4 linked regions of the Homo sapiens genome follow. The protein of the gene in region 1 purifies or fractionates together with the protein of each later gene. This does not show direct contact. Each region holds a gene or a part of one and is shown in the gene's direction. Other genes may lie near its edges.

What was found.
Region 2: the proteins of CPNE3 (region 1) and EIF5B purify together in Homo sapiens (affinity purification with mass spectrometry, with the first as the bait; one large-scale study listed by BioGRID). This does not show direct contact.
Region 3: the proteins of CPNE3 (region 1) and GPI purify together in Homo sapiens (affinity purification with mass spectrometry, with the first as the bait; one large-scale study listed by BioGRID). This does not show direct contact.
Region 4: the proteins of CPNE3 (region 1) and TRAP1 purify together in Homo sapiens (affinity purification with mass spectrometry, with the first as the bait; one large-scale study listed by BioGRID). This does not show direct contact.

What each region holds. Positions count from the first base shown.
Region 1 is NC_000008.11:86,547,676-86,555,131, forward strand, and holds part of CPNE3 (copine-3), read left to right. Parts: intron 1-35; coding exon 36-95; intron 96-625; coding exon 626-759; intron 760-3,370; coding exon 3,371-3,425; intron 3,426-3,507; coding exon 3,508-3,559; intron 3,560-7,175; coding exon 7,176-7,309; intron 7,310-7,456. UniProt on the Homo sapiens protein: Calcium-dependent phospholipid-binding protein that plays a role in ERBB2-mediated tumor cell migration in response to growth factor heregulin stimulation.
Region 2 is NC_000002.12:99,394,369-99,401,043, forward strand, and holds part of EIF5B (eukaryotic translation initiation factor 5B), read left to right. Parts: coding exon 1-30; intron 31-140; coding exon 141-217; intron 218-350; coding exon 351-515; intron 516-2,391; coding exon 2,392-2,530; intron 2,531-4,379; coding exon 4,380-4,541; intron 4,542-4,938; coding exon 4,939-5,046; 3' UTR 5,047-6,675. UniProt on the Homo sapiens protein: Plays a role in translation initiation.
Region 3 is NC_000019.10:34,393,596-34,400,910, forward strand, and holds part of GPI (glucose-6-phosphate isomerase), read left to right. Parts: intron 1-132; coding exon 133-176; intron 177-318; coding exon 319-471; intron 472-2,705; coding exon 2,706-2,835; intron 2,836-2,985; coding exon 2,986-3,062; intron 3,063-5,611; coding exon 5,612-5,740; intron 5,741-5,960; coding exon 5,961-6,036; intron 6,037-6,123; coding exon 6,124-6,190; intron 6,191-6,305; coding exon 6,306-6,441; 3' UTR 6,442-7,315. UniProt on the Homo sapiens protein: In the cytoplasm, catalyzes the conversion of glucose-6-phosphate to fructose-6-phosphate, the second step in glycolysis, and the reverse reaction during gluconeogenesis.
Region 4 is NC_000016.10:3,659,592-3,667,047, reverse strand, and holds part of TRAP1 (heat shock protein 75 kDa, mitochondrial isoform 1 precursor), read left to right. Parts: intron 1-929; coding exon 930-1,077; intron 1,078-1,586; exon of another isoform or gene 1,587-2,588; coding exon 2,589-2,774; exon of another isoform or gene 2,775-3,485; coding exon 3,486-3,624; exon of another isoform or gene 3,625-4,080; coding exon 4,081-4,166; exon of another isoform or gene 4,167-4,402; intron 4,403-4,915; coding exon 4,916-5,061; intron 5,062-7,456.

The sequences.
Region 1 (7,456 bases):
GAGAGTTGTAATTTTAAGTTTTCTCTTATTTTTAGATTACAGTAGAATGCACATTCCTTGACTATATAATGGGAGGATGTCAGCTGAATTTTACTGTAAGTAACACACTGAATTTTTCAGCATAGGCTTTTTCCTCCATGTTGCAGTATATTTTCTTTCACTGCAAAACTGACTTTGTAATGAAATTTTCACAATCTGTTTAGCATAGTCCTCTTAGAGTCCTCAGGCAGGTTGTCTGGGCTCATCATGAAGCTCTCAGTTTTGTTGATGAGATCTCTTCCTCCTGAGAGAAAGCAGATGTATACAAACCTACAAACTAGTGGTTATCCTGAACTAATTTAAGGACTAGAAAGCATTAGTGAGACAACCTTATAAAAGACAACCCTTAAGCTTAAGTAATGGATACAATAATTCATTATTTAAGCCATCTAGAAAAGTAGAAGCATCAGGTTGTTTCACATTTAGGCTTTACTTGTTTAATTGTCTATGGAAATAGTGGTAGGCATTTGTTAGGAAGTAGGCGCCAGGATGCATGATTGTATCCCATCTCTTGAAGTTTTCCTGGACATCAAGCACAGGTGTCCCTGCCTTCTCCTTACTAAGGGCTGCAATTGTTATTTGGCAGGTGGGAGTGGACTTCACTGGCTCCAATGGTGACCCAAGGTCTCCAGACTCCCTTCATTACATCAGCCCCAATGGCGTTAATGAGTATTTGACTGCTCTCTGGTCTGTGGGACTGGTCATTCAAGATTATGATGCGTGAGTATGACTTTGGAAAAACTAAAATACATGTTTTCACAATTCCCCAGAAAGGGTAGTTTGTTTCATCGGCTAGCACTCTGATATAGGTGGTAGGTTGATGATGCTTTCTCCCTAAAATCCCCCCGTCTTATCTTCTATTTTTCTCCTTGTGGCAATCTTGCTGTTTACCTTAGATCTCTAATATCTTTCTGTGATTAGTTATCATATATGGCATGTACTTTGCTTTATATTACATATAGTTTGCTACTTACTTCCTGACTGAATGTCAGCAAGGCTCTTGTTTCTTTAGTCTGGTTTCCTTGGGGCTTATTCATTAGGCATAAGTTGTATGAGTGATTGAAGCCCAGATGACATGTTTTATAAATACTGTTTATAAATACTAAATATTATTTATGTTAAATACTAAATACTATTTATAAATACTAAATACTATTTATGTTAAGAAATAAAAACTATTTCTTAGCATATCTATGTCCTTGGCAGTTGCCAAATTATTTTTTTAACGGTGACTTTTAACAAGTGCTGAAGGATAACTAGATCTAATTGCTATGAAATATTCTGAATGGTTATCAATGGTTAGGTTTTGAAAAGATTTAAATAGGTCCTATTGAGGGTTTACTAAACAATAGGGAAAACATCTGCATTAGTAGTGTTTTTCCTGATGTAGCGTTAAGAGTACAGAATAAAATTTCACTTGCTTTTGTCTATTATTATTTTATTTACATATTGATGGGGCTTTTCATTAATCTGTAGCATTTAAAGAGGTGAAATTTTTAGGCAAATGCAAAGAAATCTAAAGTAAGGTGGCAATTCCAATTTCAGGCTAGTAAGTTTTAAGGTAAAAATCATTAAATATATTTAACATATATAGAAAGTTACTTTATTAGACAGTAGTGAGAGCTTAGAAAGGTGGTCAAATATAACATAGGATTAAAAAATTAATAATTTCTCACTAGCAGATATTAAAAGTATTATTGCAATTATCTTAAGAGTATGGAATTAGGACATGACCAGTGGAACCAAGCAAACAGTCCAGAAATAGACCCATGCATATAAGTGAATTTAGGGGAGGGGGTTGTAAAAGCTGTCAAACTGGACAAGAATTGAATTTGGATCCCTGACTCATACTTGCATGTTTTAGGATATTATTCTGTATAAATTAGAGTACAGACCAGACTGCTGAAATAGACACCCAAAAACAAAGTGGCTTTGACAAAATAGAGGTTTATTTCACTTCACATTGCTAGGGGTAAATATAATAGTTAAGAACTGATAGGGGAGTTCTGCTGTTCTCAATTCACAGCTTCCCTCCGGGGTTCCATAGCTCTGGTTCTCATCTTCTCCAGCCAGGGGGAAGAGAAGAAAGGGACCAGGGAGTGAATGTGCATTCCCTTTTAGGGGCATGATTCAGAAGTGGCTGGCAAATCACTTCTACTCACATCTCCATCTCTAGATCCCAGCCATCTGATCACATCCAGGCCAGAGAAGCTAGGAAGAGCAGTCTCTAGCTCAGGTGTTCTATTATTAAAGGAGAGAATGGATATTGCCGGAGAGCAGCAATTCCTGCTTCATATCCTACTTCAAAACACTTTCCAGATGAGTTAGAAGTTTAATGTCAAAAGCAAACTTTAAAGTTTTAGAAGAAAGTGTATGTGAATTGTTTATAATCTTGTAGTGAGGAAAACCTTTAAGCAAGAGAGCAAAGGCAAAAATCATGCAGCTTTTTTGTGTTCATATTCATTAATATTAAAAACTATGAAAAGAAAGATGCTTTAAACAAAGTTGAAGACAGACTACAAACTGGGGAAAAATGTGTCTTTCTTTCTTTTGAGAAAGGGTCTCGCTCTGTCACCCAGGCTGGAGTACAGTGGTGCAGTCACAGTTCACTGCAGCCTCCACTTCCTGGACCCAAGCAATCCTCCCACCTCAGCCTGGGGGAAATATTTCTGACATGGCATAGGCTCTATCTTCAGTGCAAAACTAACTGTTAAGAATAAATATGAAAGGAATATTCCTCGTAGAAAAATTATGTTCATTATGGTGTTTTATAATGGCGGAACATTGGCTATCAGACATCTGGGGGAGGATATCCATTTTGTGGGATACTCAGTGGCTATTCATGTGATGTTATATATTCGGTCCACTGTCCCTCTCCCTAATGTATGAATGTTTGTATTAAGTGGCATAAATAAAAGCTACCAATAACCTCTGATCATCTGAGGTCAGGTTTTGCTACCAAATGAGTTTGCCATCAATTAGTAAAAAAAGAATTGTGATTTTCAGGGCTTCATGTATTTATTTACTCATTTGATCACTGAAATGATACACAAGATTTAAGTAGAACAGAGTAGGTTATAAAACATGCATGTAAACTCCATTTCTACAAAATCTATAGAAAGAAACATTTTTCTTCCTCAGTGCACAGAAAAATATTTAGGATGAGAGTTGTCAAATATTAACATTGATTCTCTTTGGCAGTTAATATAGGTAATCTTTGTTTTATCTTCATACTTTTTGAAATGAGCTCATATGGATTTTATTGTGGGCAAAGATAAAGCTTTTTATTTTGGAAAAAACAGTATTTTATTAAATATTTTTTTCTTTTTAGTGATAAGATGTTTCCAGCTTTTGGTTTTGGCGCTCAGATACCTCCTCAGTGGCAGGTAAGAGGAAATCTCTATTTTAAAGCTTTGCCTCCTAGAAAAGCAGCCCAGCCCTCATCAGTCCTTTGTCCATCTTTGACAGGTATCACATGAATTTCCAATGAACTTCAACCCATCCAATCCCTACTGCAATGGTAAGTTAAAAAATAAACATGAAGACTTCAAATGGAAAGGCTCACTAGTCTTTGTTATTTTGTTCTTTGTTCTTTGTTTTTTTTCTTGTGATTAAAACTACTCAAATTTCATCTCTAGGTTTCATTTTCTTACATATTTAACTTTCTGTTGTATAAGGTAGAAGAATTGCACCAGGTTGGTGGTTAGGGTGGTAATGGTAATTACGGGGCAAATCAGTATTATGATGATGAAGGTGGTAAGCTAAATCCTCCTACCTTAAGAACTTTAATAGGACAAAAACATTCTCAATCTTTGGAGTAGATCAGTAAAAATATCATATATTAAAAGTATTTTTACATATAAATTTATTTAAAAACAAACCTTCAATAAAATGAGTAATTTGATATACAGATCTTTTGAAGCTTTTTTCAGAGTGGTAGTCACTCTCTACGAAGAGAAAAGTATCCAGCATCTAATACTTGTTGCTCACACAGTATTCTATAAGTAGCTGGGATGGGCAAAAGGAACAAAGAATTGATCTTCTATAGCAGCTTTCCTCTGTGTAGAGAGCAGGAGGCAAATATTTGTCTTTCATTTCACTTTTTTCTTTTATTTATTTAAAAAAATAGAGACAAGGTCTCGCTATGTTGGCCAGGCTGGTCTTGAACTCTTGACCTCAAGCTATCTTCCTGCCTTCTGCCTTGGCCTCCCAAAGTACTGGGATTAGAGGCGTGAGCCACCATGCCCAGCCACGTTTTACTTTTTTCCTTATACCTCAAGTATCCAAGTGCTGCTTCTTTTTTTTACCACATTGAGCAATCAGCCAGAAATGCCAGCTCTTCCACTAAATTATATATCAGACTAAAGAGTTTGGAGAAGGCAAGGTAGGTGTGGGAGCAGAGGCATAATTTAAAATTCTAGACAATACTCTAATTTTCTGCAAAGGGTCCTTTTGACAATTACAAATGTATAGCTTTCTAACAGAAGAAAATGTTTTTTCCTTTTCTTCCTAAACAATATTCATAAGGTGGAAGAGCATGAACAATTTTTGTGGCGGCCGTTTGCAATATGGTTTTGTTCTTTTCCCCAGAACACTTTTTCCATACTAATTCAGTGTTCTTTGAGGCACTTTCAGTGACTGGTTGTGACCTCTTTTATTCCCTAGCCATTTGAAACTGGGAATGTTATTCTTTTTAAGAAATATGCTTCATTTTTATAATGAAAGTGGATAATCTTTAGAATTTGTTGTAATTAGCTTTCATTTATTGTAAATGAATATGGATGACATATCATATGATAATTCATTTTAGAAGTTCAGTCACTCTGTGAGTAATGTAAGCCCATCCTTGGGCTGTTCACCAAGTGGTTTACACTCTGGAAAAAGCATCAGTTTGGTTTTAAACAAAGGAGATACTATACAGCAAAAAGCTCAGAGCCTTATTTTAAGGCAAGGAAGTTTAATCCCCTTTTCCTAACTAATCATTGAATCTAGTTGCCTTAGAAATAATATGCCTTAGAAATAACTTGTTACTTTGATGCATAGAAAGGGTTTTGGCATAATTCAGTTTTAATTAAGGAATTGAAAGCTCTTGATATTTGTGAAGAAATTATTATTATTATTAATTTTTTTTTTTTTTTTTTCGAGACGAAGTCTTGCTCTTTTCCCCCAGGCTGGAGTGCAATGGCACGATCTTGGCTCACTGCAACCTCCTCCTCCCGGGTTCAAGCAATTCTCCTGCCACAGCCCGCCCCCCCCCCCCCCCCGCCCACAACCGAGTAGCTGGGATTACAGGCGCCTGCCACCACGCTCGGCTAATTTTTGTATTTTTAGTAAAGACAGGGTTTCACCATGTTGGCCAGGCTGGTCTAGAACTGCTGACCTCTTGTGATCTACCTGCCTCTGCCTCCCGAAGTGCTGAGATTATAGGCATGAGCCACCGTGCCCAGCCCTAAATGAATTATTTATACCTTTGTTACTACTGGACTGACTACTAGTAACATGGACCTTCTGCATGTAAAATCACCCCTGCCTATGAATTAGTTATGTTCTCAAAGGTTGTTCATAAGACTACCTGTTCCTAAATTCAAAGAAACTAAGAGGAGTTTATTGGAACTCTTACATTTTAAGAGAAGAGAGTTGGTTTCCTGAAGCTTTCAAGCCAAGTATGGTCATGCACTAAAAATGACATTTTAGTCAAGGACAGACCACATGTATGACAGTAGGCCCATAAGATTTTAATATTTTATTTTTACTGTAAAGACATAGAAAAGGTACAGTTGCTATAATTGCCTACATTATTCAGCATAGCAATATGCAGTACAGGTTTTTAACCTAGGAGTAATAGGCTATACCATCTAGGTTTGTGTAAGTATACTCTATGATGTTCATACGATGATGAAATCACCTAACGATGCATTTCTCAGAATTTATCCCCATTGGTAAGTGACACATGACTGTATATGCTTCTCCTTTTTGTTGATCTGTGTTCTCTTAGACATTTTAAAAGCAAGAGACCTGTTTTGATTTACATTAAGTTTTTTTTTTTTTTTTTGTGGCAAGTATCTGTGATGATCTCAGCAAGTATTGTTGGAAATTCTTTAGAATTTCTGTTATCCTGTCTGCATCCTAAATGCTGTGATATTAAGGGCAGATTCAACAGGTGCTTGTGTGGGATACAAGTTTCATCAGCAGTGCTTTGACCAGCAATGTCAGTCAGCTTTCACTGGGTTGTGCTGTTGTAATAAACAATCTCTAAATCTCAGTGGCTTTAATGACAACAGTTTATTTCTTGCTCATTTTACATGCAGCTAGGCTGGAGTTCTCTCCATGTTTCTTATATTGGGACTCAGGCTGAAGGAACAGCCTTATCTGGGATGTGCTGCTCCTACGGCAGAGGAAAGGAGCAAGAGAGCTGGAAAAAACAGGCAGTAGTTCTTAAGACATCTCCTTAGGTATGGGTGTCACATGCATTGGTCAAAGCTAATCAAATGGTCCTGTCCAACTTTCTATTATAAAATGCACCAGCAGGTCTAGGGGTAGTACCCCTAAACAAACACATCAGTGCTTCTGCAGCAAAATGGATAAGTAACCTGGAAGTGAATATTTGGAACTAATGCAGTCTGTGATACAATGATTAACCTTTAACTTATTGAATAAACACTTGTATCAGTTAATTAACTAGAATTAATATTAGGTTTATCGCCATCTGGTATTTTTGTAGAACCTCTGGCCATATATGCAAATGATTTTTCATTTTATTAATAACTCTTTCTTACCTTTCATCATCAGTTGTATGATGTGAAACCTTTTTCATGGTTTTCTATCAGAGCCACATTCCCAACATGTATTAAAAATTAAGCACAGATGTAACAGTCCTACCGTAGACTAATAAGTAATTTGACTGAGATGAAAGTAAATCCCTTCTATTGGGGGAGGACAGAGCTTATAGGTTTTTGCAATGGATCATACCTATGGAGTTATGTAATACATAGCTTAGAGGAACTACTGCTTATAGAACTTTTGACTATTTAAAGCACTATATGTTGATACATATAATCAAATTAGCCAGTATTGTGAATAAACACATTGTGCTTGAGAATTTTTAGTACTGTTTTTTATTTGTTTGTTTGTTCTAGGAATCCAAGGCATTGTAGAGGCGTATCGGTCTTGTCTTCCTCAGATAAAACTCTATGGACCAACTAATTTTTCTCCAATCATAAATCACGTGGCCAGGTTTGCTGCTGCAGCCACGCAACAGCAGACAGCTTCTGTAAGTGCTCTATGGCCAGGGAATGGGAAGAATGTGGATTGGTAGCAGCTCCTGGTGCCATTTTTCTATGTTTTTGGTTTGTCATAATACAAAGTCAGGGCAAGATACAATAACACAGTCATTCTTGGTTTGGGAGTAACTTTTGTT
Region 2 (6,675 bases), on another chromosome or scaffold:
CTGGAATTTCTGAAAACATCAGAAGTGCCCGTAAGTAACTACAACTCGCTCCACAAGTGAATGGTGGTTGGTCGTGGTTTTTGGTGCCATCGCCATTACCTGATACATACAGATAAACATGGAAACTCCCATTTTTTCAGTATGCAGGAATTAACATTGGCCCAGTGCATAAAAAAGATGTTATGAAGGCTTCAGTGATGTTGGAACATGACCCTCAGTAAGTAATTTCTCTTGCTATGAAGGCTTTCATGTTACGTAGCTATCTTAAAACTGTCCTATCTTAAAAAACTGTCCTCTGTGACATACTCTGTTTTTCACTGAATGGTCTTTGATGTGTTTTAACCTTTTAGGTATGCAGTAATTTTGGCCTTCGATGTGAGAATTGAACGAGATGCACAAGAAATGGCTGATAGTTTAGGAGTTAGAATTTTTAGTGCAGAAATTATTTATCATTTATTTGATGCCTTTACAAAATATAGACAAGACTACAAGAAACAGAAACAAGAAGAATTTAAGTAAGTTACTGTTTTTATTTACTTTGAGTCTTTGTTAATGAACATGATTGAGAATTACTGAATTCCAGAAAGGGCTGTAAACAGCAAAATCATGGCATTTACTCATCTACCAGAGGCTGCATCCTGAAATGGTGTGTTACAAACCAGAAACCCAACATACTGGGGACATTCCAGCAGTATGCAAACAAGTCTTGTCTGTGACTTCAGTTTAATAATCTTGGCAGACTTGGGTCTTGTTAATGGGTTCGTAGTTATTAAATGTAGGGACTTTATGTTGCTCATCTGGGATTATATAGATTGGAAGTAACAAAACTTGAGTGAGGAAAACCGGGAAATAAGAGATTCTGTGGGAGAGAAGTCCATTCCTCTACCAAACTTTCACTCAAGCACTCACAGTACCTACATTGCTGCAGTGGTAGAGGAGGCATCAGCAGAGAACCAGGCCAGCCTCCCTCCTCCTTTCCCTTTGAGACAGGGTCTCGTTCTGTCACCCATGCTGCAGTACAGTGGCATGATCATGGGTCACCCCAACCTCTGCCTACTGGGCTCAAGTGATCCTCCCACCTTGGCCTCCCGAGTAGTTGAGACTACAGGCTCACACCACTATGCCTGGCTAATTTTTTGTATTTTTGGTAGAGATAGGGTTTCGCCATGTTGGCCAGGCTGGTCTTGAACTCCTGAGCTCAAGTGATCCACCTGCCTCTGCCTCCCAAAGTGCTGGGATTATAGGTGTAAGCCACTGTGCCTGGTCTGGGACATGCTCTTATTGCAGGACAATTGACACATGTTGAGAAGTGCTGAAAAACCAAATAAAGCAGGGAAGGGCCTAGATAAGGAGAGGAGGGACTGTGATTAATGATGTGGTTTGGGAAGGCATCTCACCTCTTCAGACAGAGTAAGCCACACAGGCACATGGGGAGTGTCCAGAGAGAACAGCAGTGCGAGGCAGAGTGACCAGAAGGGACAGTGATAAATGAGGTCAGAGAGGGTGGCAGGACCTGTATCGTCAAGGATCTTACAGGCCATGGGAGGGATTGAGCTTCTCTGAGTTTTGCAAGAAGCCATTGCCAAGGCTGTGTGTTCACAATCAGACTGGTTAATTGGGTTGTTATGTGGACCTTGGGTTGTTAGGAAGTCAGTGGCAAGAGCCTGTCAGGAGGCTCCCACAGTCCAAGCAAGAGGTCTAGGTGATTCAGACCACAGTGATGATAGGAGTGATGGCGTAGTTTGGGATACATTTTTAAGTGGAGCTTACTAGTAAATATTAGGATTTAGACTGGTATATGCTCACTTTAGATCATGAAACCTGAAGTGAGAAGAATTCTACTTAACAAGACTGCTGGAAACTTTTAAAGCATTTTAAGCGTGTGCTCAATAAGCAGGGTAGTTATGTAGTGGCCTTTTGGATCAATGGTTTGGGAACGTGGTGGAGAAAAGGAGGGTGATAATACGGTCTGATGCCTATGTGATCCCCCAGTAGCCTACATATGTGCCTAACGAAGACCTGCCTGTCACCAGGTACTGCCTAGGTTCTAAGCCCCAGACTGTGGCTGACATCTTCAGCAGCCAAGCTCAGTGTTTTAGACTAGGAACAGAATGCTCCTGTGATGCAGCTTCTTTTGGAGGTAGGGCTTTAAAAGAGAAGAAAGCAAAGACTTGGGAAGCAACAGAATGGGGAGGAGGAGGTTAAGAACAAGGAAGAAGCGCTCTGGGCATGGGGTGGCCCTGGGCTGCAGCACCCTGCCTGCCCCTCTCCTGTGGCCGCTGGGGAAAGCTGCTTTCCTCTAATGGGAGAAGCCTGATGTTCAGCTGCAGTTTTTCTTTTTATGTTTAAGTGATTCTGTAAGCTTAAAATTCTTTTCTTTTTTCCTTTCAGGCACATAGCAGTATTTCCCTGCAAGATAAAAATCCTCCCTCAGTACATTTTTAATTCTCGAGATCCGATAGTGATGGGGGTGACGGTGGAAGCAGGTCAGGTGAAACAGGGGACACCCATGTGTGTCCCAAGCAAAAATGTAAGTTCTAGTTGTACATTCTGTGGGTCATTTCTTAAAGCACTAAATGAGTGTCCAAGAGTCGTACCAACACAGCTTTGTGCCTGTAGTTCACAGTACTGTGCTGTGTATTTAGTGTGGTCTCCACCTTCTTAACAAATGTTTCAGTGTTTTTACCTCAGTAGGAAGAAAATGTGGTAACTTTAAAACAAGCAGAGCCTGTCACCTTCTGTTGTGCTTCAGTATTGGTAAATATCAGTGCTCCATAGTCAGTGTTGACTCAGTGCTGATCTCAGTGCTTCAGTTAATTGGGGCTCCAAGGCACTTTACATTATTGCCTTTTATTTTATTTTGAAAGGTTTCAAGCCTGTGGAAAAGTTTAAAAACTAGTATAATGAACACTCATGTTTACCTTCCCTTTCTGTCAGCATACCTAAGAAAAATTAATAATATTTCAACAATATCCTATAATTTGCAGCCCTCAACATTATTTCACCAGTTATTCCAAAGATGTTTTGGTAACTCTCCCCACCAATCTGGCCCAGTGCCCTGCAAGCTGCATTGCACTGGGGCTTGTTTTGTGGCTGAGCCTCAGTCAAGAACAGTCCTCCATTCTTTTTGAAGTGTCCCTGTTGTTTTGCAAATCCCTCCTCCATTTGGATTTATCTGTTTCTCTCCCTCCCAACTAGACACAGGTTAGAATTATTGGAAAGACACTCATGCAGTTTCCCTGTGTGCCTGCCTCTTGCATGACCCAGCCTGTCTGACTGCTGCTGATGCTCTGATTTCCTGGGGAAAGTGCTAGACGCCAACCATCTCCATTAGAAACTTGCCCCTTTATAATTACTCTGTAATCTGTCTGGTACCTGGAGTTCCTAATGGATATCCTGTTTCTCAACAGCCTTTATCCCAGTGCCTTTAGTACCCACTGGCAAGCGTTGCCTAAGTCAACTATTACGTAGATGGTTGCAAAATTGTGGATATACCTGTCCCCCCATTTCTTACAAAGAACCTCTTCCCACTGACCTTTTTATTGAGTCATAGACTCAGTGGGTTTTTTTTTTTTTAATATAATCCATTACCTTTATTCTTTTGATACTCAGATTTTCTATTGTGGTCAGTAGGAGCTCAACTGGCTCCTGTATCCTTGACACACAGCAGTCTGAGCATCATCTTCCTTTCTGGTTGAGATGTTCCAGCCTCATCTAGTACTTTCCCTGGCCCAAACCTGGTTCTTGTAATGGGCAATGGCACTTAGAAGTTGTCATTGCTTTTCTACCATTTCAGTGGACTAAGCCTGGACATTTATTTGTGTTACTTTCTATGTGGCTTTGGCCTCCTAAACCAACCAGAGCTCTCCCTGTTTTCACTCTTACTCTCCTGAATCTTTTTCTCCACAAAGGAGTCAGGGTTTTTTGCCCCAAACTCTGAGATCACATCACTCATCTGCTCACAGGCCATCATTCTTAAAATTTCAGGATTGGTCCTCACTCTGACTTCATTCCCATCAGCCACTTCAAGCTCATTCCTGACTCAGACCCTTTGTGCCTGCTGATCCCTCCTATTACGGCACCTGTCACGTGAAATGGTAGAGCAAAAATAGGAAATGACATTGGGTCAACAGGGCACTTGGAATGTTTTGCAAAGCACATTATCTCCTGTCATTCTTACAACCATCATGAAGGGAATAGGGTGTTGGTGGTGCCAGCCTAGTTTACCAAAATGTTACACCGTGAGTGATGAAAGGATCGCACTGCCATGACTTTTAAAACAGGCTTTTGCTCTAGTTCTTACTTCAGCTATCCAGCCATGGCGCCTGTGATTGGCATGAATTCTTCTGCATGCATTTTAATTTGTTCTTATTTTATAGTTTGTTGACATCGGAATAGTAACAAGTATTGAAATAAACCATAAACAAGTGGATGTTGCAAAAAAAGGACAAGAAGTTTGTGTAAAAATAGAACCTATCCCTGGTGAGTCACCCAAAATGTTTGGAAGACATTTTGAAGCTACAGATATTCTTGTTAGTAAGGTAAGTATTTCAGCAAAAGTGGCACACTTTAAGCAACAGGGAATCACTCTTCTTGGGTCACCTGTACCTGTAGCTCCTTGGGCTTCAGTTTGATTGTAGAATCTGATGGGACTGGATCCCCCATTAGGGCTTGACCTCTAGCTGGGCCTTGTCTGTTGAGGAAGTTGCTCTATCAGGAAAGCAGCACCAACAGAGAAAGCTAGGACTTTTAGGTCCCCTCGTGCCTGACATGCAAACCAGATGTGATTTTGGAATTCTACTCCCTTAGGCAGGCAAGCCCTGTTTTTTATTTCTGCTTAAGCTTTTTAGTACAGTGAGAGCGGGCATCTGGGGCCACAGCTTTCTTTGGCACGTTTGTTATGTTCTGTTTACCCTGTTTGTGCCTCGGGCATTGCAGATCAGCCGGCAGTCCATTGATGCACTCAAAGACTGGTTCAGAGATGAAATGCAGAAGAGTGACTGGCAGCTTATTGTGGAGCTGAAGAAAGTATTTGAAATCATCTAATTTTTTCACATGGAGCAGGAACTGGAGTAAATGCAATACTGTGTTGTAATATCCCAACAAAAATCAGACAAAAAATGGAACAGACGTATTTGGACACTGATGGACTTAAGTATGGAAGGAAGAAAAATAGGTGTATAAAATGTTTTCCATGAGAAACCAAGAAACTTACACTGGTTTGACAGTGGTCAGTTACATGTCCCCACAGTTCCAATGTGCCTGTTCACTCACCTCTCCCTTCCCCAACCCTTCTCTACTTGGCTGCTGTTTTAAAGTTTGCCCTTCCCCAAATTTGGATTTTTATTACAGATCTAAAGCTCTTTCGATTTTATACTGATTAAATCAGTACTGCAGTATTTGATTAACCAAGCTTCTGCAGATTTTGTGATTCTTGGGACTTTTTTGACGTAAGAAATACTTCTTTATTTATGCATATTCTTCCCACAGTGATTTTTCCAGCATTCTTCTGCCATATGCCTTTAGGGCTTTTATAAAATAGAAAATTAGGCATTCTGATATTTCTTTAGCTGCTTTGTGTGAAACCATGGTGTAAAAGCACAGCTGGCTGCTTTTTACTGCTTGTGTAGTCACGAGTCCATTGTAATCATCACAATTCTAAACCAAACTACCAATAAAGAAAACAGACATCCACCAGTAAGCAAGCTCTGTTAGGCTTCCATGTTAGTGTAGCTTCTCTCCCACAAGTTGTCCTCCTAGGACAAGAATTATCTTACAAACTAAACTATCATCACACTACCTTGTATGCCAGCACCTGGTAACAGTAGAGATTTTTATACATTAATCTTGATCTGTTTTAATCTTGATCTGTTTTAGTAGAGATTTTTATACATTAATCTTGATCTGTTTTAATCTTGATCTGTTTTGTCCTAGAAAATTCCATCATACACACATTTCCTGATATTTGGGCTTAGTGCTTCTAAATTGTTGCAGACACAAAACTTAATGATTCATTCGTAGTAGTAATCTGTAGCTAGTTTTAGGGTTTTGCTGAAGTCAGTGTGGGGTGTTTGTTTGAGGAAAAAGTTCCAAATATCCACTAGCATAGAATTTTAAACTATTTTTATTTTAAAGTTATGGCATAACATATAACATAAAAATATTTTATATACGTTTGAAAAATCTATACCGTTCTTTTTTATCATCAAAGTTTCTCAATGGCCAGTAGAAGCAAAAAGACAACACCACCTCTGATCTACGGGACATAATGTTCCCAGGAAAAAAATCTTCAAGTGGGTGTGAGGGTGTTTCTAATTCAAAATATGTAGATTTCTCCGCATGGAAGAAGTAGTAAAGATTTTCTTAACATGCTCCTGTGTTCATGCTTGGAGACAAGAATAAGATGGTTTAGAAGCTTTACCCTTTCTTGGAACAAGTAGAATCCCGGTCTGAGACCTCTCAGGAATTTCAGAGCTTAGCAGTCTGGCCTGGAGGTTTTTCAGCCTTTTAGTATAATAAACAGTAGTTGCTTCCTAGAGTTGAGTTTTTAAGGATTCACAAAAAGGAGCCTGTACAAAATATACATACAGTTCTTTATTAAACAACTGTAAACACTTCACTGTAAAAATCCATAAAACTTTATAAACAAACATTTTGTAAATAGAATCTATGCTA
Region 3 (7,315 bases), on another chromosome or scaffold:
TAGGTCCGAGTCCTCCCATGTCGTATCTTCTGGCTCTCCATGCAGCCTTCCTTCGTTGCAGAAGGAGCTGTGCCCACTGCCCACAGGACGCAGGGTGTGGCCACTTCTGTTGACTCTGCTTTTGTGTCACAGGTTTTGACAACTTCGAGCAGCTGCTCTCGGGGGCTCACTGGATGGTGAGTGCTGAGGCTGGTTCTCTGCCAAGTGCTGGCCAGAGGCGCGTGTGTTGGTCCTGGTCCCCCGCTTTCTCCCCCACTGTCCTGTCCCTCCCCTCCCCGTGCAGCTGCTCAGCTCCCACTCATCCTGCTCCTGTTTCAGGACCAGCACTTCCGCACGACGCCCCTGGAGAAGAACGCCCCCGTCTTGCTGGCCCTGCTGGGTATCTGGTACATCAACTGCTTTGGGTGTGAGACACACGCCATGCTGCCCTATGACCAGTACCTGCACCGCTTTGCTGCGTACTTCCAGCAGGTACCAGCTGCCAAGCCAGGCCTTGGAGTCAGCAAGATTTGTGGGGGGTCTGGGAGGTCTAGGAACCTGGGTTTCAGCTCCTCCAGGAGCTCTTTGCCCCATTGCCCTTGGGCCTGGCCAAGGTCCATCTGTGCTCCTTGTCTCAGGATGAATCTTTGTAACTGAGGTTGGTTCCATTTGAGTGTCATCTGAGTTTGATCACCATGGGAGGGGCATGACTGGTGATCATGGTGCCCTGGCTAGGGAGGTCCTGGCTTGACTCAGGGGATGTTTCTCAGCTGGGGTCACTTCTTTCTTGCACATCACTATGCATGCCTACCATAGTGTCTGAGGACGTAGGATCTAGCCCTGGTATGAGGCCCTAGGTCTGTTAGTATCTGGGGAGGAAGGATCTGGTACAGGTATGAGGACCTGGGTCTGTCCATGTCTGAGGAGGTGGGATTTGGCCATAGGGTGGGGCTGCAAGCTGGAATCCCTTATAGCCTGCACTGCCTTTATCCCTCCAGAAAAGCAAGTGTGTATCTAGTCTGTGGTGGCCTCTTTGGACTACATGGCCCTCTTCTCCCTTGGGATCTCCAGAGCCCCCCGAGAGGCTTAGCAGGCCCTCTCCTAGTCACATTATGTCCCAGAAAGCTTTTCCACACCTGTCCCTGCTTTTTTTTTTTTGAACAGATTCTCACTCTGTTTCCCAGGCAGGAGTGCAGTGGCGCGATCTCGGCTCATTGCAACCTCCGCTTCCTGAGTTCAAGCAATTCCTGTGCCTCAGCCTCCCGAGTAGCTGGGATTGCAGGCATGCACCACCTTGCCTGGCTAATTTTTGTATTTTTAGTGGAAACGGGGTTTCACTATGTTGCCCAGGCTGGTTTCGAACTCCTGGCCTCAAGCGATCCACCTGCCTTGGCCTCCCAAAGTGCTGGGATTACAGGCATGAGCCACCATGCCCAACCCTATCCTTGCTTTTGTTTAGTACAAAGCCAGTCCCTGTCCAGCAGCTCTTGAGTTGCTCTGGGCAGGTACAGAAGGCTTCACCAACACCTGGAAGCAAATCCTGTGACTGAAGGAGAGGCCAAGGTTCCCCAAATCCCAGCTGCCTTGGTGAGGGTTGCCATGACCAGGGCCCAGGTGGGTACCCAAAGCCTAGCATTTAGTTGTGGTGACAGCCCTCAAAGGCTGTACTCTTAGCCAGGCATGGTGGCTGATGCCTGCAATCCCAGCACCTTGGGAGGCAGAGGCTGGGGGGAATTGCTTGAGCCCAGGAGTTCAAGACCAGCCTGGGCAACGTAGTGAGGCCCGGTCTCTACAAAAAAAACCCACAAAAACTAACAGTAGCCAGGCATGGTGGTGCGGCACCTATAGTCCCAGCTACTTGGGAGGCTGAGGCAAGAGGCTTGCTTGAGCCCAAGAGGTCGAGGCTTCAGTGAGCAATGATTCTACCACTGTACTCCAGCCTGAGTGACAGAGTGAGACTCTGTCTCTTTGGGAAAAAAAGAAGCTGTGCACTCTGGACCCCAGCCTGCTCTCCCTTAAGAAATGAGCTGATTTTGTGACCGATTTTGTCTTTAGGGAGGTCCTTGCCTGACCTCCAGACCCACCTTTTCCTGGGCATGAGTCCTTCCTGCACAGTGGCTTAAGCAGGAAAGGTTGGGAGGCTGTGTCCTCACTGGTGTGGGGAGGAAGGGGATCGTGCCTGTGGACACGTGTGCAGGTCCACCTCACGGTGTCAGGGCAGGGTGGGTCTGCCTGGAGCATCTGGGCAGGACTTTGGCATGGTGCAGGAAGGAGCAGGATTTGCGTACAGTGTGTGAAGGATCAAGACTTGCAGGAAGAGGGTTGGGTTTTTTTTCTTTCTTTTCCTTTCTTTTCCTTTTTTTTTTTTTTTCTTTTTTTTTGAGTTGGAGTTTTGCTCTTGTTGCCCAGTCTGGAGTGCAGTGGCATGATCTCGGCTCACCACAACCTCCGCCTCCCGGGTTCAAGCGATTCTCCTGCCTCAGCCTCCCAAGCAGCTGGGATTACAGGCATGCGCCATCACACCTGGCTAATTTTGTATTTTTAGTAGAGACAGGGTTTCTCCATGTTAATCAGGCTGGTCTCAAACTTCCAACCTCAGGTGATCCGCCTGCCTTGGCCTCCCAAAGTGCTGGAATTACAGGCTTGAGCCACTGCGCTCAGCCTCTTTCTTTCTTTTTAAATGTTCTTTCATTTTGCCAAGAACTGGGTTTCTGTTCCTTTTCCAGGGCGACATGGAGTCCAATGGGAAATACATCACCAAATCTGGAACCCGTGTGGACCACCAGACAGGCCCCATTGTGTGGGGGGAGCCAGGGACCAATGGCCAGCATGCTTTTTACCAGCTCATCCACCAAGGTAGGCCCCTGTGGCCTGGGAAGGGTGATGTTGGGGGAGGGAAAGGATCTTCCAGAAGAGATATCTCACTTAGGTCAGTGCCCTCCTCTAGGCCATATGGCTAGCTCCCATGGGCTGGGGTCATGTGGGTGACCACAGTGCCCTTCACAGGCACCAAGATGATACCCTGTGACTTCCTCATCCCGGTCCAGACCCAGCACCCCATACGGAAGGGTCTGCATCACAAGGTAAGAGCCCCCATCTGGCCCCATCTGGGGGGTCTGGCTCACATTGCACCCAGACCTCTGAAAACCTGGTGCATTGGTTGGCAATCACGTTAGTTTTCTATTCCTGCCGTAACAAATGATAACAAACATGGAGGCTTAAAACAACACTCTTCTTTTGTGGGGTGGGGAGGGGGGACAGAGTCTTGCTCTGTCGCCCAGGCTGGAGTGCAGTGGCACGATCTTGGCTCACTGCAACCTTCCCCTCCCGGCCTCAAGTGATTCTTATGCCTCAGCCTCCCAAGTAGCTGGGACTACTGGCACTCACCACCATGGCCAGCTAATTTTTGTAGTTTTGGTAAAGGGGGGGTTTCACTATGTTGGCCAGGCTGGTCTTGAACTCATGACCTCAAGTAATCTACCTGCCTCGGCCTCCCTAAGTGCTGGGATTATAGGCATGAGCCACCTTCCTGGGCTATCTGAAGAGTTTCTGAAGCTCAAATATCCAGCAGGCCCTGATGTGTCTCTGCTTAGAGTCTTGCAGGCTGAAATCAAGGTGTCATCAGGACTGTGTTTCTTTCTGGAGACCTTAGGGGAAAAGCCTTTGACCTGCTTGTCAGGTGGTTGGCAGAATTCATTTCTCTATGGTTGTGGAACTGAAGTCCAGCTTCCTTGCTGTGGGCTGAAGGTCGTTCTCAGATTCTCAGAGGTCACCTGCATCCTCTAGCTTGTGGGCCTCTTCACTGCAGAACCAGCAATGGCAGGTTAAATCCTTCTCTGAAGCTTTGATTCTGTCTTGCCACTTCTGTTGCATCTCTCTGACTTGTTTACCTTCCTCTTCTACATTTTGCTTTTGTTCCCTAAGTGACAGTGTCATGCTGTGTTGTCTAGGCTGGACTTACAGTGGCATGATCACAGTTCACTGTATTCTCAACGTCCCAGGCTCAAGCAGTCTTCCTGCCTCGGCCCCTCAAATAGCTGAGACTTACAGGCACTAACAGGCACTTACAGGCACTTACAGGCACTAACAGCCTGGCTAACTGTTAAACTTTTTGTAGAGGCCAGATTTCACTATGTTGCCTAGGCTGGTCTCCAACTCCTGGGCTCAAGTGATTCTCCTGCCTCGGCCTCCCAAAGTTTTGGGATTACAGGCATGAGCTACCGTGCCTGGCCCTCTTTTACTTTTAAGGGCCAGTGTGATTAGATTGGGGCTACTAGATAATCCAGGAAAATCTCCCCTTTTGTTTATTTTATTTATTTATTTTATTTTAGAGATAGCATGTCACTCTGTTGCTGAGGCTGGAGTGCACTGGCCCAATCATAGCTCACTACAGCCTTGAACTCCTGGGCTCAAGCAATCCTTTTATCTCAGCCTCCTGAGTAGCTGGGACCACAGATGTACAACATGCCTGGCTAAGTTTTTTTTTTTTTTTAAAGAGACAGAGTCTTGCTCTGTTGCCCAGGCTGGGGTGCAGTGGCACAATCAGGCTCTCTGCAGCCTCACCCTCCTGGGCTCAAGCAATCCTCCTACCTCAGCCTCCTGAGTAGCTGGGAACAGGCACACGCCACCACACCCAGCTGATTTTTTTATTTTTATTTTTTGTAGAGATGGAGTCTCAGTATGTTGCCCAAGCTGCCCTCGAACTCCTTCAGAGAATTTACTGTGCTTTGTCTCAGGTGTGCAGAGCAGCACAGGGTTACGGTAGCACAATCTTGGGAGTCAGTGAGCTGGATTGAATTCTGATTGTTCCTGTCTATAGTTCTGTGATCCAGCACTGTGGACTTGTGGAACCCAAGGCTCTACTAGAACAGGGCGATGATGCCTTTCCTCCTTAGGATCTTAGTATTATTTTTTTTTCGAGACACCGTTTCACTTTGTTGCCCCGGCTGGAGTGCAGTAGTGTGACCTTGACTCACTGCAACCTCAGCCTCCTGGGTTCAAGTGATTCTCGTGCTTAAGCCTCCGGAGTAGCTGGAATTACAGTTGCACACCACCACGCCCAGCTACCTTCTTAGGATCTTAAAAGATAGATGTTGGTAAAATTGTGAGCAGGACCCCTAGCAAGTGGTGTGTAGTTCTTTTTTTTTTTTTGAGATGGAGTCTAGGTCTGTCGCCCAGGCTGGAGTGCAGTGGCGTGATCTTGGCTCACTGCACCCTCTGCCTCCCAGGTTCAGGTGATTCTCCTGCCTCAGCCTCCTGCCTGATGACAGGCATGCGCCACCATGCCCAGCTAAATTTTTTTTTGGTATTTTTAGTAGAGACGGGTTTCACCATGTTGGTCAGGCTGGTCTCGAGCTCCTGACCTCGTGGTCCATCCGCCTCGGCCTCCCAAAGTGTCGGGATTACAGGCGTGAGCCACCGCGCCTGGCCACTGGTGTGTAGTTCTTAAAGAGCAGTTATCACTGTTCCCTGCCTTGTGGTGTCATCGGATGTGTCCCCCTCGCTCCAACTGAGCTGTACAGCGAGTGACCCAGGCTGGGACTGACCCCTGCTGAGAAGTACCAGGCGGTCTTGTCCCTCTGCCTGAAGCCCAGACAGTGCTCTCAAGCATAACTGATGTCTCGCTCATCAGATCCTCCTGGCCAACTTCTTGGCCCAGACAGAGGCCCTGATGAGGGGAAAATCGACGGAGGAGGCCCGAAAGGAGCTCCAGGCTGCGGGCAAGAGTCCAGAGGACCTTGAGAGGCTGCTGCCACATAAGGTCAGCACTTCTGCATTTGGCTTTGGGGTGCATGCTGGAGTTGGAGGTGTGAAGCTATGGCACCAGGCAGGGGCTTGGGGCGTGCCTGGCTTGTCCTACAGAATGGGAGGGCCTGTCCTCACAGACCTGCACGTCTCAGCCTCTGGGGCAGGGTGTGCTTCCCTTCAAGGGGTTTAGGGATCAGGACTCTCTTGGAGACATTCCTTGGTGTTTTCTGCAGGTCTTTGAAGGAAATCGCCCAACCAACTCTATTGTGTTCACCAAGCTCACACCATTCATGCTTGGAGCCTTGGTCGGTGAGTGAGTAGGGGAAAGGTCCTGGCTTGGGGTAGGTTGGAATGGGCTTGTGGAGCCCTGATGTGCCCTGTCTGTCACTTCTGCAGCCATGTATGAGCACAAGATCTTCGTTCAGGGCATCATCTGGGACATCAACAGCTTTGACCAGTGGGGGTGAGTTGCTCACTTAGGGGAGGGCCGGGAATACCTTTGTGTCGGCTCAGGGATTTCAGTAGCAACGTTAGAGCCTTCCTCATACCACTCTTCCCTTCCCTTCCCTTCTTGGCAGAGTGGAGCTGGGAAAGCAGCTGGCTAAGAAAATAGAGCCTGAGCTTGATGGCAGTGCTCAAGTGACCTCTCACGACGCTTCTACCAATGGGCTCATCAACTTCATCAAGCAGCAGCGCGAGGCCAGAGTCCAATAAACTCGTGCTCATCTGCAGCCTCCTCTGTGACTCCCCTTTCTCTTCTCGTCCCTCCTCCCCGGAGCCGGCACTGCATGTTCCTGGACACCACCCAGAGCACCCTCTGGTTGTGGGCTTGGACCACGAGCCCTTAGCAGGGAAGGCTGGTCTCCCCCAGCCTAACCCCCAGCCCCTCCATGTCTATGCTCCCTCTGTGTTAGAATTGGCTGAAGTGTTTTTGTGCAGCTGACTTTTCTGACCCATGTTCACGTTGTTCACATCCCATGTAGAAAAATAAAGATGCCACGGAGGAGGTTGTAGGCTCAGCCTCTGATTTTTTTTTTCCTGTGATGGTGCTTTATGTAGCAGAGGGCAGGAGCGCTCAGCAGGACGCAGGCTGTGCCTCTGCGGACACTTAACACTAAGTGGTGAGCGGGTCTAGAGTGGAGCAAGGTGCCCTGAGAAGACAATAGTGGGGTGGGGGCACAATCAGTCAGGACGGCAACTTGGCCTGTGTCACCAAATCCCAAGACTGTTTTCCACTCCTCACCTCTGTGACTGCAGAAATTGGATACTCTGTTCACTCGATGGTTCTAAAAACTGCATTGAGATTATGTTTGTTTCGGGTGAATTCCTGGACAAGACCGAGGATGACTGCCATCTCCTGGCAAGACGCTCAGGTAGTTCTTTTGCTTTAAAAGGCAGATATTGAAAACTGGAATTTTTTTTTTTTGAGTCTCGCTCTGTCACCCAGACTGGAGTGCAGTGGTGCAATCTCGGCTCACTGCAACCTCCGCCTCCCGGGTTCAAGCTATTCTCCTGCCTCAGCCTCCCGAGTAGCTGGGATTACACGGCGCACACCACCATACCCAGCTAATTTTTGTATTTTTAGTAG
Region 4 (7,456 bases), on another chromosome or scaffold:
GCCCTGTGGCTGAAGGACTGAGTCACTGGGGATGGAGTGTGGGAGGAAAGGCTCTAAATGAACTCGAGAGAGTGTTGTTCCCATGCTCTGGATTATTGAAATACATTGTAATTTACCTGCTTAAAGGAAAGACTAAATATTAAGAAGAAAATAAAAATATCCCTAGTCCCAGTGATAAAGTTGTTCCTAATTTTAGGCCATTATGTAATGCTGCAGTAAATATCCTGATCCCTAAAATCCCAATTTTGAAAAATTAGAGTATACATATATTCAGTATAAATCCCAAATTACAGTGTACATATATAGTATATACAGTGCTGCTCCTAATGATGGAAAATTGTTATGTACATGTAGAATGTGCATTCTTTGCCTGTATCTATAGACGTACTGTAATTTACCCACATTGGGATTTTTCTGGGTTTTCTTTCAACACAGCTAACTTTCTCATGTCATTGAGGATTATTAAAAGATGCAGTTTTTTTTTTTTATGGCCATTTAGCATTACATAATTTTAGCCTATATTCTTGAACATGAGGTTGTTCATAATTGTTATATTTTATGTGCCACAGTGAAAATCCTGGTACATAAATCTTGGTGTGCTCACATGTTTCCTAAGGTGCAGTTCCTATAATTGGAACAACTGGCTCAAAGGTTGGAAGGGTTTTCCGGGCGTGGGTATCTTGTCTCTGGGGGCATCGGTTCTCCTACTGCCTCCAGGGGGTGTCTGCCCTCCACCCTGCTGCCTCCTGTCCGGCCACTGCCCAGGGTTTCTGTCTTTCTGCTCAGTCTTTTTCAGTTTGGCCAATAACGGTACCTTGTTGTTTTCACTTCTTTGATTCTTAGCGGGGCTGAACATTTTTTCGTACCCTCTGGCCATTTGTATTTCATAGAGGCTGCTTGTATGTATTAAATGCATTTCTTTTCTGTAGGAAACTCCGGGACGTTTTACAGCAGAGGCTGATCAAATTCTTCATTGACCAGAGTAAAAAAGATGCTGAGAAGTATGCAAAGTTTTTTGAAGATTACGGCCTGTTCATGCGGGAGGGCATTGTGACCGCCACCGAGCAGGAGGTCAAGGTATAGGAGCTGTGTTCCAGGCCTTTTTCTGGGCCACCTTGTCCCTGGGGCTGCTGAGGAAGCTGGTGGAGGTGTCCCCTGATGTGGCGACGGTGCAGCTGGGTACCCTGGCTGCTGCTGCTGCTGCCACCAGGGTCAGGAAATGGAAGGCCAGGCTTCTGGGCCTCTGGCACCTTCCAGGCACATCCTTACCCTCCCACCAGTGCTGTGCTGTGCTCTGAAGGGCTCAGCCTCACTGCTGTGTGAAGGTGCAGCCCAGGGAGTGGCAGGAAGAGGGCGTGCACACACTGTCTCCCCTCAGAGGATGTTGGGGGCTGGGGAGCCACAGACAGGTGGGACAAGCCAAGGACTCCGATCCCGTGGGTGGGGAAGTGGGTGGTCTCAGTGTCTGTTGAGGGACTATTCATCATGTACTGGATATCAGTCTCCAAATACTATGCTACAGGGGCCAGTCGTTCAGTTAATCCAATAGTGGATGGCTGAAAAACGAAACATTTGTTCCATAAACATTTTTTGTCCATTTTTTATTGAGATACAACTTACATAGCATCAGATTCACAGAATTCACCTTTTAACACGTAAAATTCAGTGGCATTTAGTGCATTCACAGTGTGGTGTGGCTGCCTCCACTGTAACCCCAGAACATTTCATCCCAGGAGCCCATCCCGTGCTGGTGTCCCTTCTCCCCAGCAGCAGGAGGAGGGTGACCACGTGTGTGGGGTCCCAAGGAGGCCGTGTTCTGGTTGTTTGCCGACTTCGGCAGCTTCTGACACAGGCCTCTTCATTCTCCTTTATCTTCATTTGAGTTAACAGCACACAGGTAAGAGTCAGAGACATTTCTAGGTCTTTGTAGGTGTGCACGTGTGACATGTCTTATCAATGCAGACCCACCATGTGTGCAGGGGTGGCCTGGGCCCTGCTGGTTGGGTGTCCAGCTCCTTGCTTTTCCCTCTTTCTGTTTTCCCCCTGCGTCCTTCCAGCTGCAGCTCCCATGAGCTCTAGAGGTCACAGCTGCGTTCAGCTGATGGGGAGGAGGGCAAACCCCTCCCCTAAGGGCCCTTCTCCAAATCCCACTGAAACCCACTGGGCAAAGCCAGTCTCTGCCATAGCCAGCTGTGAGGAGGGCCGGGAACCGTGGACTTCACCCGTGTCCGTGTGCCCACCAGAGACTGACTCTGTCACTGAGGGCAGAGGGAAGACGCTGGGTCCAGGCCGGGCTCTGCTGTTGGGTGGGGTCCCCTCCCAGGGCGTGGTGCGCGTAGCTCCCTGGAGAGCCCCTGGGCCACCTGGGGCAGGAGGTGCTTCCTAAGCCCCCAGAGCTCCCAAAAGGGGCCTGATGGGCAGAGCAAGGCCTGCTCTCGGACAACCCCCGAGTCCACTACCGTCCCTCGGGTCAGGGCCAGCCTGGAGTGCCAGGAGGCCATGGGCATCGGAGGGTTTGCGCCCAGTTAGTTGGGCAACATTGAGCCCATGGGCCTGGAATAAGTGGTGACCTGCCCCGTCCCTTCTAGGAGGACATAGCAAAGCTGCTGCGCTACGAGTCCTCGGCGCTGCCCTCCGGGCAGCTAACCAGCCTCTCAGAATACGCCAGCCGCATGCGGGCCGGCACCCGCAACATCTACTACCTGTGCGCCCCCAACCGTCACCTGGCAGAGCACTCACCCTACTATGAGGCCATGAAGAAGAAAGACACAGAGGTGGGTGAGCGGTGGGTGGGGCGGGCTCCGGGGGCTGCAACCTGGGGAGGGTCTTGACCTTCTCAGCTCTGTGCTGGGTGAACCTGCCCAAGACTCCGGGCAGGGCTGCACAGTGGGTCAGGGTCACGGGCACAGAGGCCGGACCGACTGTGACGGCTGTTTCCCACTTGGAGGTCACATGTGGTTTTTTTTGTTTGTTTTTTGTTTTTTTGAGATGGAGTCTTGCTCTCTCGCCCAGGCTAGAGTGCAGTGGTGCGATCTCGGCTCACTGCAACTTCCGCCTCCTGGGTTCAGGTCATTCTCCTGCCTCAGCCTCCTGAGTAGCTGGGACTACAGGTGCACACCACCACACCCAGCAAATTTTTGTATTTTTAATAGAGACGGCATTTCACCATGTTGGTCTCGAACTCCTGACCTCATGATCTGCCTGCTTTGGCCTCCCAAAGTGCTGGGATTACAGGCGTGAGCCACTGCACTCAGCCACATGTGGATTTCTTTATGCGTGGAGTGCTTCTGCCTTGAAGGCAGTCAGAGCCTTCCTTAGACCCAGGTGTCGTAGTAACTGTCATGCAGGCCTAGGAACCCCAACTGCCCCGGTGTTCCCCAGTGTGGCCCGCTTGGCTCCCCCAGCCCTCCTGCCGCCCTCATCCTTTCTTCTGTGGTGGCTGGAGGCCCCCGGGGTCTGATGGAGCTGCTCTTGGCCACCTGCAGGTTCTCTTCTGCTTTGAGCAGTTTGATGAGCTCACCCTGCTGCACCTTCGTGAGTTTGACAAGAAGAAGCTGATCTCTGTGGAGACGGACATAGTCGTGGATCACTACAAGGAGGAGAAGTTTGAGGACAGGTCCCCAGGTCGGCATCCCCTGCTCTCTAGGCGTGGGGCTGGTTTCCACTCCCCGCACGCCTCTCCTGCCCCGCAGCGAGGGCTTCCTTTGGGTTTTCGTCAGTTGACCTGGGCTCAGCCACCCCCGAGAAGAGCCTTGTGGGAGCACCCTGGTGACTGGAGGAAGGTGCCTCCTGGTTTAGATATCAGGGGTCTGTCCAGTGCTCCTGCCACGGTGGCTTCTGGAGCTGGCCCAGCTTCTTGAGAGGCTGTGTATTTTTTTAAAGCCCTAACCAAGTTGTATGGGCCTCAGGCAACCTGAAGCATCCTTTGAGGTTTTACTTTTAGATGAAAAGCATCTTGCTAGCTTGTGTCTCCATCCTGGTGGGAGAGGAGGTGGGAGCTGGAAGCATGCTGCGTGGCCCCCATGGAAGCCGGGGAGTTGGGATGCAGGCCTGAGCTCCCTGTCGCCTGCTCTTCCGCAGCCGCCGAGTGCCTATCAGAGAAGGAGACGGAGGAGCTCATGGCCTGGATGAGAAATGTGCTGGGGTCGCGTGTCACCAACGTGAAGGTGAGGCTTTCCCGGGGATGGACCACCACTTGGCCGCAGTGTCCCTAACAGGCTGGCCAGCTGGTGGCTCCCAGTACCTGGCCCGTTGGGTGTCCTTCCAGCAGCAGCAGAAGCCCTTGGTGTCAGGTGGAGACCCTGTGGGTCCCTGCTCGGCACGTGTTGCTCGGGAGTGCCGCTGAGGCAGGAAGGCCGTGTCTTTCTCCCAGCCCTGCTCCAGAGCAGGTGTGAACTGAGAACTGAAAAACCAGCATCCTGAGTGGGAGCTGCAATGGCTGAGGACGTGGGGGTTCCAAACAAGGGACATGCTACCCCAGCCCTCAGGAGCTCACATGCTCACTTGGGTGCTTAGTCGGGGGTTTTGGGTGGGCTTCAGAGAGCTAAGACTCCCCCCACCAACCTGTCTAGCTCAGAGTGAGAAATGAGCGTCCCATGCATGGTCACTTGGAGGAAGGGGCCTCATGCAGGGTGGGCTGGCATGGAGCAGAGGACGATGGATTCGGGCAGCTCCTGGAGGCAGCAGCGGGGCACCAGGGTGGTGGAGCCCCTCGGGCACAGTATCTTTGCGTGGGGCATCAGCTCAGGGCCCACAAGTTAGTGGGTAATGGGGAGGGAGCAGCGCTGGTCCAGGGGAGTCCTTGAGACCCCGCCTGCTACCTCGTGGTCTGGGTGACCTTCACCCCTGGTAAGATCCTGCCAGCCCTCTCACATTGGGAACCTCTATCACCCTCAACCCCGGGCTTTGCTCACAGGTGACCCTCCGACTGGACACCCACCCTGCCATGGTCACCGTGCTGGAGATGGGGGCTGCCCGCCACTTCCTGCGCATGCAGCAGCTGGCCAAGACCCAGGAGGAGCGCGCACAGCTCCTGCAGCCCACGCTGGAGATCAACCCCAGGTGAGGCCACGCTCCTGGCTCTTCCAGCCTGTGGGATTCCCCAGAATCCTGTGTGTGGTGTTCTTTTGTTGTGGAATGTGACACAGAAGAAAAGTGCGTGAGGCCTGTGGACATGTGGGTAACTATAAGGAGCTGTATGCAGTTTAGGCTGCACCCATGTGAAATGGAACCTGGCCAGCCCCTTACCATCCCCAGGTGTCACCTGGGAGGTTAGCCACATCCCAGCCTGTGACCATGTCCTCGTTTTGCTTTATGGCTTTGCCACCTGTGCGTGTCCTGGACATGCTCAGTTTTGCCTGTTTTGAGCTTTGTACGTGGATCTTGGTGTTTGCTGAAGTCTCACGTTGCTCACTTGGCATGAGGGTTGCCCATGCAGAGGGGCTGCCACAAGTTCATTTTCATAGCCGAATAATGTCCGCTGCAGAAACCCACCTCGGCACAGCAGACTGCTCCGTTCTGCTCTGCTGGGCCTCCGGTGGTTCTTGGTCAGAAGTTGTGGAGAGCCAGGCTGCTCTGAGTATTCTTGTCCACGTGTCTGGGGCTTGTGTGGGTTTCTCTGTGGCCCCGGTGGTGGGAGCTGCTTCCAGGGTGCACCGAGAACCCCCCAGCCCTGACAGTGGCTGAGCCGTAAGATTTCCCTCGTTTCTTCCTGTTGTTCTTTATATGCCCTTTATCTGTTGTAAATGTCTTTTCACCTGCCTTTAGGTATCTTTTGAGTTTCTTTCTTTTTACAGTATCACTTCTTTGCACCCATGAATGTGATCTATTTAGGTCTTTAACATCCTTTGGTACCTTACATTCTCTGTAGGGTTCTGGTACCATTTTTAAAGAATTATTCTTTGATGTGTCTTATGGGGTATTTTAAAATTTCATTTTCTAACTTGTATATGAACTAACTTGTATATGAAGTTTCTTTTTTGGGGGAAATTTTGAATGTAGCAATTTTTTAAAAAATGAAGTTACATAAACATGTTACCAAAAATAGAAAACAGCAAAAAGGAAATCAAAATCCATAGACTTACCACCCCCCCCACAATGTAGCCTAAGTAGTATTTTAATTTTTGAGACAGGGTCTCACTCTGTCCCCCAGGTTGGAGTGCAGTGGGGCAATCTCAGCTCACTGCAACTTCTACCTCCTGGCCTCAAACAATCCACCTGCCTTAGCCTCCCGAAGTGCTGGGATTACAAGTGTGGGCTACCACCCCCAGCCAGTTTTTGTTTTGTTCTTTAGTACATGTCTAGTTTTTTTCTTTTGTCATTTTACAACCATAACTTTTAAAATTATACTGGAGGCGAGGGAGATGCATCTTCCTAGCCATGGCACTCCTGGGGAAAGGCTGACTTGGCTTATGGCTGTCAGTGCACAGCAGCGCCAGTATGCAGAATGCCTGTGCCTCTGCTGGAGCAGCTCAGTGAGGCGGACACCAGGTCACTTTAACTAGTTTTGGTGGCAAACTAGTTTTGTGAGATAGCTGCAGAAGTGCTCGTTTCTGTCTGTTGCCACTTCACTTTTGGAGACAGGGTCTTGCTCTGTCACCTAGGCTGGAGTGTACCAGTGGCGCCATCAGAGCTCACTGCAGCCTTGGCCTCCCAAAGTGGTGGGATTACAGGCGAGAGCCACTGTGCCCAGCCAGCTTCACTTTCATTTGTTTTAAAATTTGGTGTTCTGTCCACATAGTTCAGAATTCAAAACTGCTTACAGGGGAAAATTTCCTCCTACCTGTGTCCCCAGTGCAGCCAGCATTAGGGCTTTTGTATTTCTGCAGAGATTATGTGCATTTGTGGGCAGCTGCGCCCGTGGGCTTCCAAGGGGGAACTTGCTGTGCAGTGGGTCCTTGCCTTGCTTTTCTCCCTTAGGGTAACTAGGTGACCTCCACATTAGCATATTAAGAATGTCCTTTTTTTCCAGCTACGTAGACTAGAAATGTGAGGATGTGCATTTGAAGTGTTTCCTCTGTTAGGTTGGGTGCGGTGCCTCACGCCTGTAATCCCAACATTTTGGGAGGCCTAGGCGGGTGGATCACTTGAGGTCAGGAGTTCGAGACCTCATCTCTACTAAAAATACAAAAACTAGCTGGGGGTGGTGGTGGGTGCCTGTAATCCCAGTTACTTGGGAGGCTGAGGCAAGAGAACCTCTTGAAACCAGGAGGCTGCGGTGAGCCAAGATCATGCCATTTCACTCTAGCTTGGGTGAAGGAGTGAGAGTCTATCTATCTATCTATCTATCTATCTATCTAAAAAAAAAAGTGTTTAAAGGGATGCAGTTAGGAAATGGAATGGCTGAGTCTCAGCATATCATCCACATGTGGTTTTCCCGACTCCAGTTGTCCTCTGGAGAGGTTGTACAAATTTACAGTTCCCCAGAGCCCTCGGTTTTATCAGACTTCTAAGTGAA